2 separate regions of the Homo sapiens genome follow, and region 1 is linked to region 2. The links come from fine-mapping of genetic effects on gene expression. A gene starts in region 2. The other region holds a variant in brackets. All regions are shown on one strand. Distances are from middle to middle.

What was found. PIP is the estimated chance that this variant, and not a neighbour inherited with it, causes the effect.
Region 1: its variant is the best candidate, but not a certain one, in a credible set for the expression of LINC02328 in cerebral cortex (GTEx, PIP 0.63).

Annotation. Positions count from the first base shown.
Region 1 is chr14:85,977,012-85,982,403 of GRCh38, reverse strand. All of the region lies in intron 1 of LINC02328 (long intergenic non-protein coding RNA 2328), which reads right to left. Among named protein-coding and RNA genes, the nearest start is that of LINC02328, 45 kb to the right of the region's middle. The variant A/T (reference allele first, on the strand shown) is at 3,056.
Region 2 is chr14:85,932,625-85,938,016 of GRCh38, reverse strand. It overlaps LINC02328 (long intergenic non-protein coding RNA 2328), which reads right to left and starts at 3,339. Exons shown (of 4, transcript NR_110155.1): 1 at 3,156-3,339. RefSeq lists enhancers at 3,225-3,434, 3,805-3,854.

The DNA.
Region 1 (5,392 bases), 44 kb before region 2:
TATATCTACTGTCATTGTGATATAAATGTGTATGTATAAATATGTACACATGATATGCACATATATATAGATATACATATACACACATATGTATGTATGTGAATATATATAGTTAGCTACTAAAACTTTTTCCAGTGTCATAAGAAAACATTCATAGCAGAAGCAAAGGAAGCAGGAAAGAATTACAGAAATTTGAGGGTTATTTTTTGCTGTGGAAGAGGAGACAGAATCACTAATCAAAGATATAGTTTCACATATATTCAGCAGAGGAAGTATTGTTTTAACACTATTTTTTTTTCAGCAATATATGAAACACATGGATCTTAATTTATATCAAAATGTCATACAAAAGGAAGCATTCATCTTTAGAACATTTGCAAGTAAGCTTCCCATCTGTAAACTACCAATTATGATTTATCAAAGTGTCCAAGTACAGAGAAAAGTTTAGTTCTTCGGTATGAAAAATCGCTTTTTAAGCATTTTAGTTTACTTAATATTCAATAAGGTAGATAAAAGTTTAGCCCACACTTTCTATTTACATGAAAATGAATCAACGTAGAAAATCCATAAAGCTAAAAAAGCAGAAACATTTTCCTTGGAACAATTAGGATCTTAATGTGAGAATGTTGACGAATAGATAGGAGATAATGGAGAACTCACATAAGAAAAGATTTCTTTGAATGTGAGAGGAAACAGTCCCCAAGTACCTATGCTTAAGCAGAAGGAAGCAGGACAAAATAGAGGTAAGTGTAGATAGGTTTGTATAGGTGGAAGCAGAAATTGAGGGTGATATCATATTTTCTATGTGAAGAGATAAGATTGTTCTTTGGCTGGGAACTGGGAGGCTGAGTTCAAGTTTGAAAATACGCGGAGAAGAATTGACACTTTTGATATAATGATGAAAAGAAGTTGTTAACAAGAAATTCTGAACAAGATTTATGATTAGAAAGTAATGTTGATAACAAAAATGAGACGCCTAAAGAACTCTACGAATTTGGAAATGCCATGAACTGGGACTCTCACTGAAGTACAGAAATGACCATAGCTAGGAAAGCAAGTTGTACTCAGAGAGTGTAATAACTGAATTAGCAATTCTGTAGTAGAGATAATCTGCATTTATAACAAAATTCATAGTGTGAGAGATACGGATGTACGACAGGGCAGAGGACAGATTCTTCGGAGACAAGTATGTTAAGCATAGAGGGTTCATACGTCATGAAGGATGGCAGTGACAGAATTTGGATGAAGATATGTTAGTGAACCAATTACCAGAAGTTAGATGATAGCAGTAAGAAAGCAGTTGGAATTGTATAGTGAAATTTCATGAATCTCAAATGAATCTCAAATGTGTTTAGTGTGAGAGTGTGTGTGTGTGTGTGTAGGTGAGTTGGATTAGTGTCCCACCAAATCTTAAGTCAAATTTTTGGACGTGGGGACTGGATCATGGAGGCAGAGTTCTCATGAATGGTTTAGCACCATCCCTTCTTGGTACTGTATGGTGAATGAGTTCTCAAGAGATCTGGCTGTTTACATGTATGTGGCTCCATCTGTACCACCTTGCTCCTACTCCAGCCATATAAGATGTGCCTGCTTCCGCTTTGCTTTCCACCATGATTGTAAGTTTCCTGAGGCCTCCCTAGAAGCAAAAGCTGCTGTGCTTCCTATACAGGCTACAGAACCGTGAGCCAATGAAACCTCTTTTTTTTTTTTTAATAAATTACCCAGTCTCAGGTATTTCTTTATAGCAATTTGAAAACAAACCAATACAGTATGTGCATGTGTTTTTTGTTAGTTTTACAAGAGAATGGTGTCTCATTGCTAGAAGTGCCACTGCAGTTTAGGGAGTTCAGAAATACCACCTCACCATCCAGGGGTGTGTGTGTGTGTCCGAAAATAAGCAACCAGCATTAAGAGGGAAACAGTACAGGTGATATCTTCAGATGAGTCAAGTTTCACTTATGGCAGGCAATGTAGAAGTTGAAGATAGGTTTTATTATTATTATTATTATTCTAGATGGATAGTTCTAGAAAATACTGTGGGAAAGTTTTGAAGATGAGGATATGGTAGACAGCTGAGTCCAAAAAAAGCAAGTGCAGAACATTGAGAAGAACAGTACAGTAAATGATAGAAGATCATGTTTCCTTATACATGAGGCATTGACCGATAGAAAAGAGAGCAACGGCAGATGGAGAACCCTTTTGAGCAGGGTGATGTCAGAGTGTAGGGACTTGACAGTTTGACTCTCTCAGCTGGAGTGACCCTCCTCGGTGGTTTCCAACTATGACTATATGATATATAGCTGGGGTGAAGGTAGTTAGAGAAATCACCACCATTATAAATTAATACATTGCCATGTATATTTATATATCAATCCCCGCCAAATATTTTTAGTGTGAATCATTGTAATAGTATAATAAAATTTTTGTATATTGACACAATTGATTTCCTGCACCTGCAAATCTAATGTCCAATATTTAAATTACTATGTTTCCACCAAGGTAATTATATTATGAGATTTGCAGTCTAATAGCCAACCAGTCAACTTTGGAGGAAAAATCATATTATCTTCTCATGTCTTTTAAATTGAAACACATATGGACTAAGATTTTTATCATATATGAAAAAAATAATCAACTATTAATTTTTGTCATAATGAGAGAGGCTATTCCCTCTCTTAACCAATAGCTTATATCTTAATTTTCTGAACTCTTACGAGTATGCAAAAAATTACCCATCTTTTACACAACTGTATATACTGCCAACTATCATTGGATTAATTTTTCTAAAGTAGAACTAAATTATATAAGATCTTTGGAAAACAGAGGATATGATATGATTTGGCTGTGTCTGCACCCAAATCTCATCTTGAATTGTAGCCCCCATAATCCTCATGTGTCATGGGCGGGATCTGGTGGGAGGTAACTGACTCATGGGAGGGAGTTTTTCCATGCTGTTTTTGTGATAGTAAGTCTCATGAGATGTGATGGTTTTATAAAGGGCAGTTCCCCTGCACACGCTGTCTTGCCTGCTGCCATGTAAGACGTGTCTTGCTTC[A/T]TTTTTGCCTTCTGCCATGATGATGAGGCCTCCCCAGCCATGTGGAACTATGAATTAATTACACATCTTTCCTTTATAAATTACCCAGTCTCAGTTATGTCTTTACTAGCAGTGTGAGAACAGACTAATATAGGCATGAAATGTGATTCCTGGGTTTCTTTGACTGTTACTTTTGCTCACTCTGTTAACATGCATTTTTCTAGAATACCTTCTAGATATTAGTTATTGAATTAGACCAAACCTCTGACCTTGGGGAGTTCATGAGTTGATTGTGTTCAGTTTTCCCATCATTCTGGTGATCCTGCAGAGGGCACACTTCAGTTTCTAGATTTCATTTTAAATATTGATTTTCCAACAGTTTAAACAAACAAAGGTCATCCTAGAAAAAGATTTTTTTTTTTAGTAACAATTGTTTAAAATTTTTTTCTTTTTTTTTTTTTTTGCAAACACAAGTGCCAAAAACTCTGGCCTTCATTCACACAAAGTTTCATTTAAACAGATTGTCTTCTTTTCTCAGACTTGAATTTAGCTGGTGACTTGACAGTTGAACAGATGTTCACTTCCATTTCCGTAAGTCTGTATGTTTTGAAAAAGAAGATTAACATATTCACATCCAACAAAAACAAGGGCAGTTAAACCCAAACCATTTGTCTAAGGGAAAGAGGATAGAATTATTTTCATCTTTTGCATTGTGTCCTTTCATATAAATCTCCCTCACTTCACACACACTCACCTTTGGCTCTCAGAAGGAGCCAAAATTTAATTTTTCATGGGAATGTGTAGAAATACATGTAATGAAAATAATATTGTTTATGCAACATCAAGGCTTTCTAGATTTGTCTATCTTTGCCAGCAGCTTTTAAGAACATTCACTTAAAGCAATCTAGATAGTTGTCCTTATTGGAGAAAACATCAAAACCTCCACAAAAAGAAGAAAAAAAATAGAAATGCCCTGGCACTGTAATTAACACTTTGAAACAGAGATCCAGGCTACTTCAGGTTAATTTCAGAGACCCTAGCAAAACACGTATGCACACCTTCTTTATTTGAACCATCCATTCATTATTCTTTTTGTGTGTATAAACCTGGTGTTAATTCAAGCGGAATGCTCAGATGATTTGCTGGTGGCATATTTAAATAAAACACATAATTTTGTAATGTTGGTAAGGAGACAAAATCAGTGAACAGTACTTTGTGGGTAATCTGTTGAGAGGAAAAGAATGAGAGAATAAAAAGTAATGATACTCTGTTCTCTTATTCTATTTAGTGTATAATCATGGTACTCTCTGTTCTGCTTTCATGTAAATTCCTCTCCCCCCAAAAAAAGAAACAACAACAAAACACAAGTATGCAGTTACCCTGGATCTTAAATTAGACAATGCAGGTAGTGATTTATGGATAATGAGCTACATCAACAAGATCCAGGCTGGTGAACTGTGTGGCAGGTTGAATCAAACAAAGCTAAGTTACGTGTGATACTGAGTTCAGTAGATCCCACAGGGGATCCAGAAATCTCAGCCAAGGAGAGCTGCCACGAAAAGAGATACCAAATTTGTATACATATTTATTTAGATTTCACATTTCAAGAACATCCTAATGTACAATAGTCAAGGTGTTACATTTTACCTGAAAAAGTGCATATCATGAATGTTAAATTGTATTAAACAATTTGAAATGTAATGCAGATCATCAATATGATTATAGTTCTATGAAGTTCCATTCATTCACTCAGCTGGTATTTATTGAGGACTTAACTAGATTCATTCAGCAAACATTTTGTGGGCACCTTCCCTGTGATAGTCATATTTGGGGATATTGAGGACACAAAAGTGCTATGTCTCTGGTCCCAGAAATATAAAGATGAATGGCCTATTGTTTCTTCCCTTAAATAGGTGTTGAAAAACCAGATACATAAGCATACCTAACTAATTTGATTCATTGTGATAACAGATAAGATAGGAAGTAATTAAAAACTTATTAGTGTTAAGAGAAAAAATATCTATTAATTTTGAATATATGACAAGGAGCAGGGGAAATTTTCCAGATTAGGTATTGATGATGGTCCATAAGAGGAGTTATGATGTAAGTAGTAAAAACTTGTACTCAGACCTGTGATCAGTAAGATTGTAGTCAGTTTCAATATATTGTTTTTATCTTCTTTTCATGTTGTTATTTCACCTACAAATTTCTATATAAGCTTATAGTCCAAAACCATACCTTTTAATGCCCTTTTTGAATTTTAATGCATTGAAAAGTATGGTTGAATAAGCCATGCACTTGCTATTAGATACCTGGTTGCTTCTAATTGTTCATTAAATGATCGTATACAATTTTGAA
Region 2 (5,392 bases):
CAAATCAGTCTCCCTGAGCATTCAGGGATCAGATGTTTTAAGGACAACTTGGTAGGCGGGGGGAAGCCAGTGAGCCAAGAGTGCTGATTGGTCAGGAAGGGGATAAAATCATAGGGAATTGAAGCTGTCCTCTTGGGCCAAGTCAGTTCCTGGCTGGAGCCACAAGATCAGATGAGCCAGTTAATTGATCTGGGTGGTGCCAGCTGATCCATCAAGGGGAGGGTCTGCAAATTTATCTCAATCACTGATCTTAAGAGCAGATTAGGGTTTTTTTGTTTTTTTTTTTTTTTTTTTTTCTGAGACCAAGTCTCACTCTGTCGCCCAGGCTGGAGTGCAGTGGCACGATCTTGGCTCACCACAAGCTCCACCTCCTGGGTTCACACCATTCTCCTGTCTCAGCCTCCCGAGTAGCTGGGACTACAGGTGCCTGCCGCCACACCCGGCTAATTTTTTTTTTTTTTTGTATTTTTAGTAGAGATGGGGTTTCACCATGTTAGCCAGGGTGGTCTCGATCTCCTGACCTCATGATCCACCCGCCTGGCCTCCCAAAGTGCTGGGATTACAGGCATGAGCCACCGCACCCAGCCCATAATTTCTAATCTTGTGGCTAATTTGTTAGTCCTACAAAGGCAGTCTAGTCCCCAGGCAAGAAGGAGGTTTGTCTGGGGAAAGGGCTGTTATTGTTTTTGTTTTAAACTATAAACTAAGTTCCTCCCAAAGTTAGTTCAGCCTACACCGAGGAATGAACAAGGACAGCTTGGAGGTTAGAAGAAAATGGAGTTGGTTAGGTCAAATATCTTTCACTGTCTCAGTTATAATTTTGCAATGGTAGTTTCCATTTTTCCCAAAGATTCAAAGTCAAGTCGATGAAGCAAATGTTGACATTTTAAACAAATAGTGCTGAAACAATTGGATACTCAAATTAAAACAAAAAGAACCTAGCACATATTCTACAGCTTTCACAAAAATTAAGTTGAAATTGATCAAGTACCTAACTTTAAAATGAAAAACTATAAAACATCTAAAAGAAAAAGAAAAGAGAAAATCTATGGAATCTTAGATTTGTCGATGAGTTTTTAAATACAGCACCAAAAGCACAATACATGAAAAAAAAGTAAGACTTTATTAGAATTATAAACATCTGCTCTTTGAGAAATATTAAGAGAGTTAAAGGACAAGCCATAGAATGAGAAAAAAATATTTGTGAAACACATATCTGGTAAAAAAAAAAAAAAGATAGAAAAAATAAAAATAATACATCCAAAATATACAGAGTGATGCTTAAAACTCAAGAATAAAATACAACTCAATTAAAAAGTAAGCAAAAGTTCTAAACAGATACCACCATATATATGGCAAATAAGTACATGTAAAGATGCTCAACATTGGTTGTCATTAGGTATATAAAAATTAAAATAATAATGAGATAACATTGTACATGTATTAAGAGGGCTAAAAACCAAAATATGCTAATACTAAATACTGGTTAGGATGAGGAGCAACAAGAACTCTCATTCATCACCGGAGAAAATGCAGAATGGTACAACCACTCTGATGGATAACTTAGCAGTTTCTAACAAAGCTAAACATATTTTTACCTTGTAATCCAGCAGCTGGGTTCTTAGATATTTACCTAGATGATTTGAGAAATTTTAACTACAGAAAACTTTCACATGAATGTTTATAGAATTTTATAAAATTATCACCAAAAACTGAAAGCTATCAAGATGTTCTTCAACACAGAAATGAATAAACTCTGGTATATCCATACAATGAAATACTATTCAGAGATAGGAAAGAATGAGCTATCAAGCTGTACAAGGACATAGATGATTCTTAAATGTGTATTGCTAAATGAAAGAAGCCAGCATGAAAGGACTGCTGCATACTGCATGATTATATTACATTCTGGAAAAAGCAAACTTATAGAGAGGGTAAAGATATCATTTGAAAGCAGCCTGGGCAAGATGGCAAGACCCTGGCTCTACAAAAAAAATTAAAAATTAGCTGGGCATGGTGGTGCACACCTGTAGTCCCAGCTACTTGGGAGGCTGAGGCAGGAGGATCCTTTGAGCCCAGGAAGTAAAGGTGGCAGTGAGCCATATATATGGTGCCACTGCACTCCAGACTGGGAAACGAAGCAAGACCCTGTCTCTAAAAATGAAAAAATAAAGAAAATAAAGATATCAGTGGTTTCTAGAGGTTCACAGACACAGATTTGAGTAGGTGAAGCACAAGAGATTGCCTAGAGTGGTGAAACTATTCTGTATGATACTGCAATGGTGGATAGATGATATTATGCATTTATCAAAACCCATAAAAGTCTAGAGCACAAAAACTTAACCGTAATGTATGAAAATTTTTAAAAAATTATTTAGGAGGTTAGGAGATCCCAGATACAAGGTAAACTGTGACTATACAACCATCCAATCTTCAACAAGGCCAACAAAAACAAGCAACAAGGAAAGGACACTCTATTCAATAAATGGTGCTGGGATAACTGGTTAGTATGCAGAAGATTGAAACTGGATCCCTACCTTTCACCAGATACAAAAATTAACTGAGGATGAATTAAAGACTCAAATGTACGCTCTCAAACTATAAAAATCCTAGGAAATATCCTTCTCAACACTGGCCTTGGCAAAGAAAATTTGGCTAAGTCCCCAAAAACAATTGCAGCAAAAACAAAAATTGACAAGTGGGACCTAATTAAAGAGCTGCTGCACAGCAAAAGAAACTACCAATAGAGTAAACAGAAAACCTACAGAATGTGAGAAAATATTTGCAAACTATGCATCCAACAAATGCCTAATATCCAGAATCTGTAAGGAACTTACAACAAGCAAAAAACAGAATACATTAAAAAATGGGCAAAGGACATGTACAGACACTTCTTAAAAGAAGACATACAAGCGGCCAACGAACATGAAAGAATGCTTGTCATCACTAATCATCAGGGAAATGCAAATCAAAACCACAATGCTATATCATCTTAAACCAGTTACAATGGCTATTACTCTACAGTCAAAAAACAACATATGCTGGCGAGTCTAGAGAAAAAGGAACATTTATACACTGTTGGTGAGAATGAAAATTAGTTCAGCCACTATAAAAAGCAGTTTGGAGACTTTTCAGAGAACTTAAAACAGAGGTACCATTCAACTCAGCAGTCCCACTGAGACGAGAAGTCTTCTTCTGATGGAAGGTTTTTCTCAATGGAAGCGTTCGTGTCTCACGGGCTTCAAGGAATGAAGCTGTGGACCACAGCAGCGAGTGTTACAACTTGATTAGAGAAACGGGCGGACCCAAAGAGTGTGCGGCTGCAAGATTTGTTAAAGTGAAAGCAAAAGTAAAGTGAAAGCGAAAGTAAAGCTTCTGCGTGGTGGAAGGGGACCCAGAAGGGTTGCTGTTTCTGGCTTGGGTGTCTTATGCTTATATCGCCTTATGACCCCTCCCCTTTTCCTTTTTCTGTCCTATACAATTAGCTTATTTTCAACCCACTTGTGGGTTGATGGGCCTGATTGGTTAAAAACATCAGGCTGTAGCTAGACCTTAAACTCCCTATATGATTGGTTGAAGTTTCAATCCCTTAGCTTGCAGCTGTGACTCATTTTGGCTTAGGGGAAAGTCCCCTTTGATTGGTTGAAGTTTAAATCCCTTAGCTTGCAGCTGTGACTTATTTGGGTTTAGGGGATAGTCCCCTTAGGGAAGTCCCTATTGACCCAGGAAGTCCAGCCAACTTAGCCACTTAGTCCCTCACCATTACTGGGTATATAACGAAAGGAATTTAGGTCATCATACTGGAAAAAACACATGCTATTGTATGTACATTGCCACACTACTCACAATAGCAAAGACATATGTGATGGTTAATACTGAGTGTCAATTTGACTGGATTGAAGGATACAAAGTATTGATCCTGGGTGTGTCTGTGAGGGTGTTCCCAAAGGAGATTAACATTTGAGTTAGTGGGCTGGGAAAGGCAGACCCACCCTTAATCTGGGTGGCACAATCTAATCAGCTGCCAGGTGGCTAGAATATAAGCAGGCAGAAAAATGGAAAAGAGAGACTGGCCTAGTCTCCCAGCCTACATCTTTCTCTTGTGCTGGATGCTTCCTGCCCTGGAACATCCGACTCCAAGTTCTTCAGTTTTGGAACTCAGACTGGCTCTTCTTACTCTTCAGCCTGCAGACAGCCTATTGTGGAACCTTGTGATTGTGTGAGTTAATACTTAATAAACTCCCCTTTATGTATATATGTGTGTTCCATTAGTTCTTTCCCTCTAGAGAACCCTGATACAGATGTTGGTACCAGAAGTGGTCTTCTAGAGGAACAGAATATTAAGGATGTAGTTCTTTCATTGGTTTTGGAATTTCTGGTGTTGGCTGCTTAATATTAGACGCCAAAAATGCTAAGAACTCTACTTCTAATAGCATGGAGAACACTGATAATCCTTGGCATGAACTGTTCGAGAAATATGCAAAATAAATGCATTTGACACTCCTGATTCATCGCTCCTGAGAGGCAAGGATTTTAGTGACTCTACATGTAATACCTTTGACCATATGTGGAGAACCAAGGAACATAATGAAGCTGGTTGGTTGCTCCTAAGTTCAGTGGAAAAAGTGATGAAAGAAAATAATGAACTCAGGGATTCTATCTCCCGGCCTCAGAAGCAGATACTGAGCCTCAAATCTGCTAAGACTGCCCTGAGTGAGAGTCTTATCTTCCTGTAGAGAAAGAGCTGAAATTGTGGAAAAACAGACACAAACCCTTATCATGTAGGCTGACCTGTAATGAAAGATGCATGCACAGCCTCACCAGGTGTCCACTGTTAAAGTGAGCGCTTTGATTAGAAAAGAATGGGGCCCTGCAACTTGGAATGGGGACGTGTGGGAGGACCCTAATGAAGCTGGGGACACTGAGTTTGTAAACTCTGATGAAACTTTTCGGCCAGAGGAAACAGCTTCCCCATCCCCAGTAGAGACAATATCCCCTCCCTGACCCACACTGCCATCAGCCTTTCCACCTTTGTCTGAGGAGATAAACCCTGTGCTGCCTGAGGCAACAGTGATGGCCTCCCTTGAGGCAGTTTCCAGGCAAGGTAAAGTTGATTATCTTCAGGAGCCACCTCCAACACCCCTGTTTCCTTCTAGACCTATAACTAGACTAAAGTCCAGGCGAGCCTCTAGAGGTGAGGTTGAGAGTGTGACCCATGAGATGTTCTACACCCAAAAAGAATTGCTTGAGTTTAAACAGAAATCTGGAGAACAGGCATGGGAATGGATATTAAGGGTGTGGGATAATGGTTGAAGGAACATAGAGTTGGATCAGGCTGAATTTATTGATTTGGGCCCACTAAGTAGGGATTGTTCATTTAATGTTTCAGCTG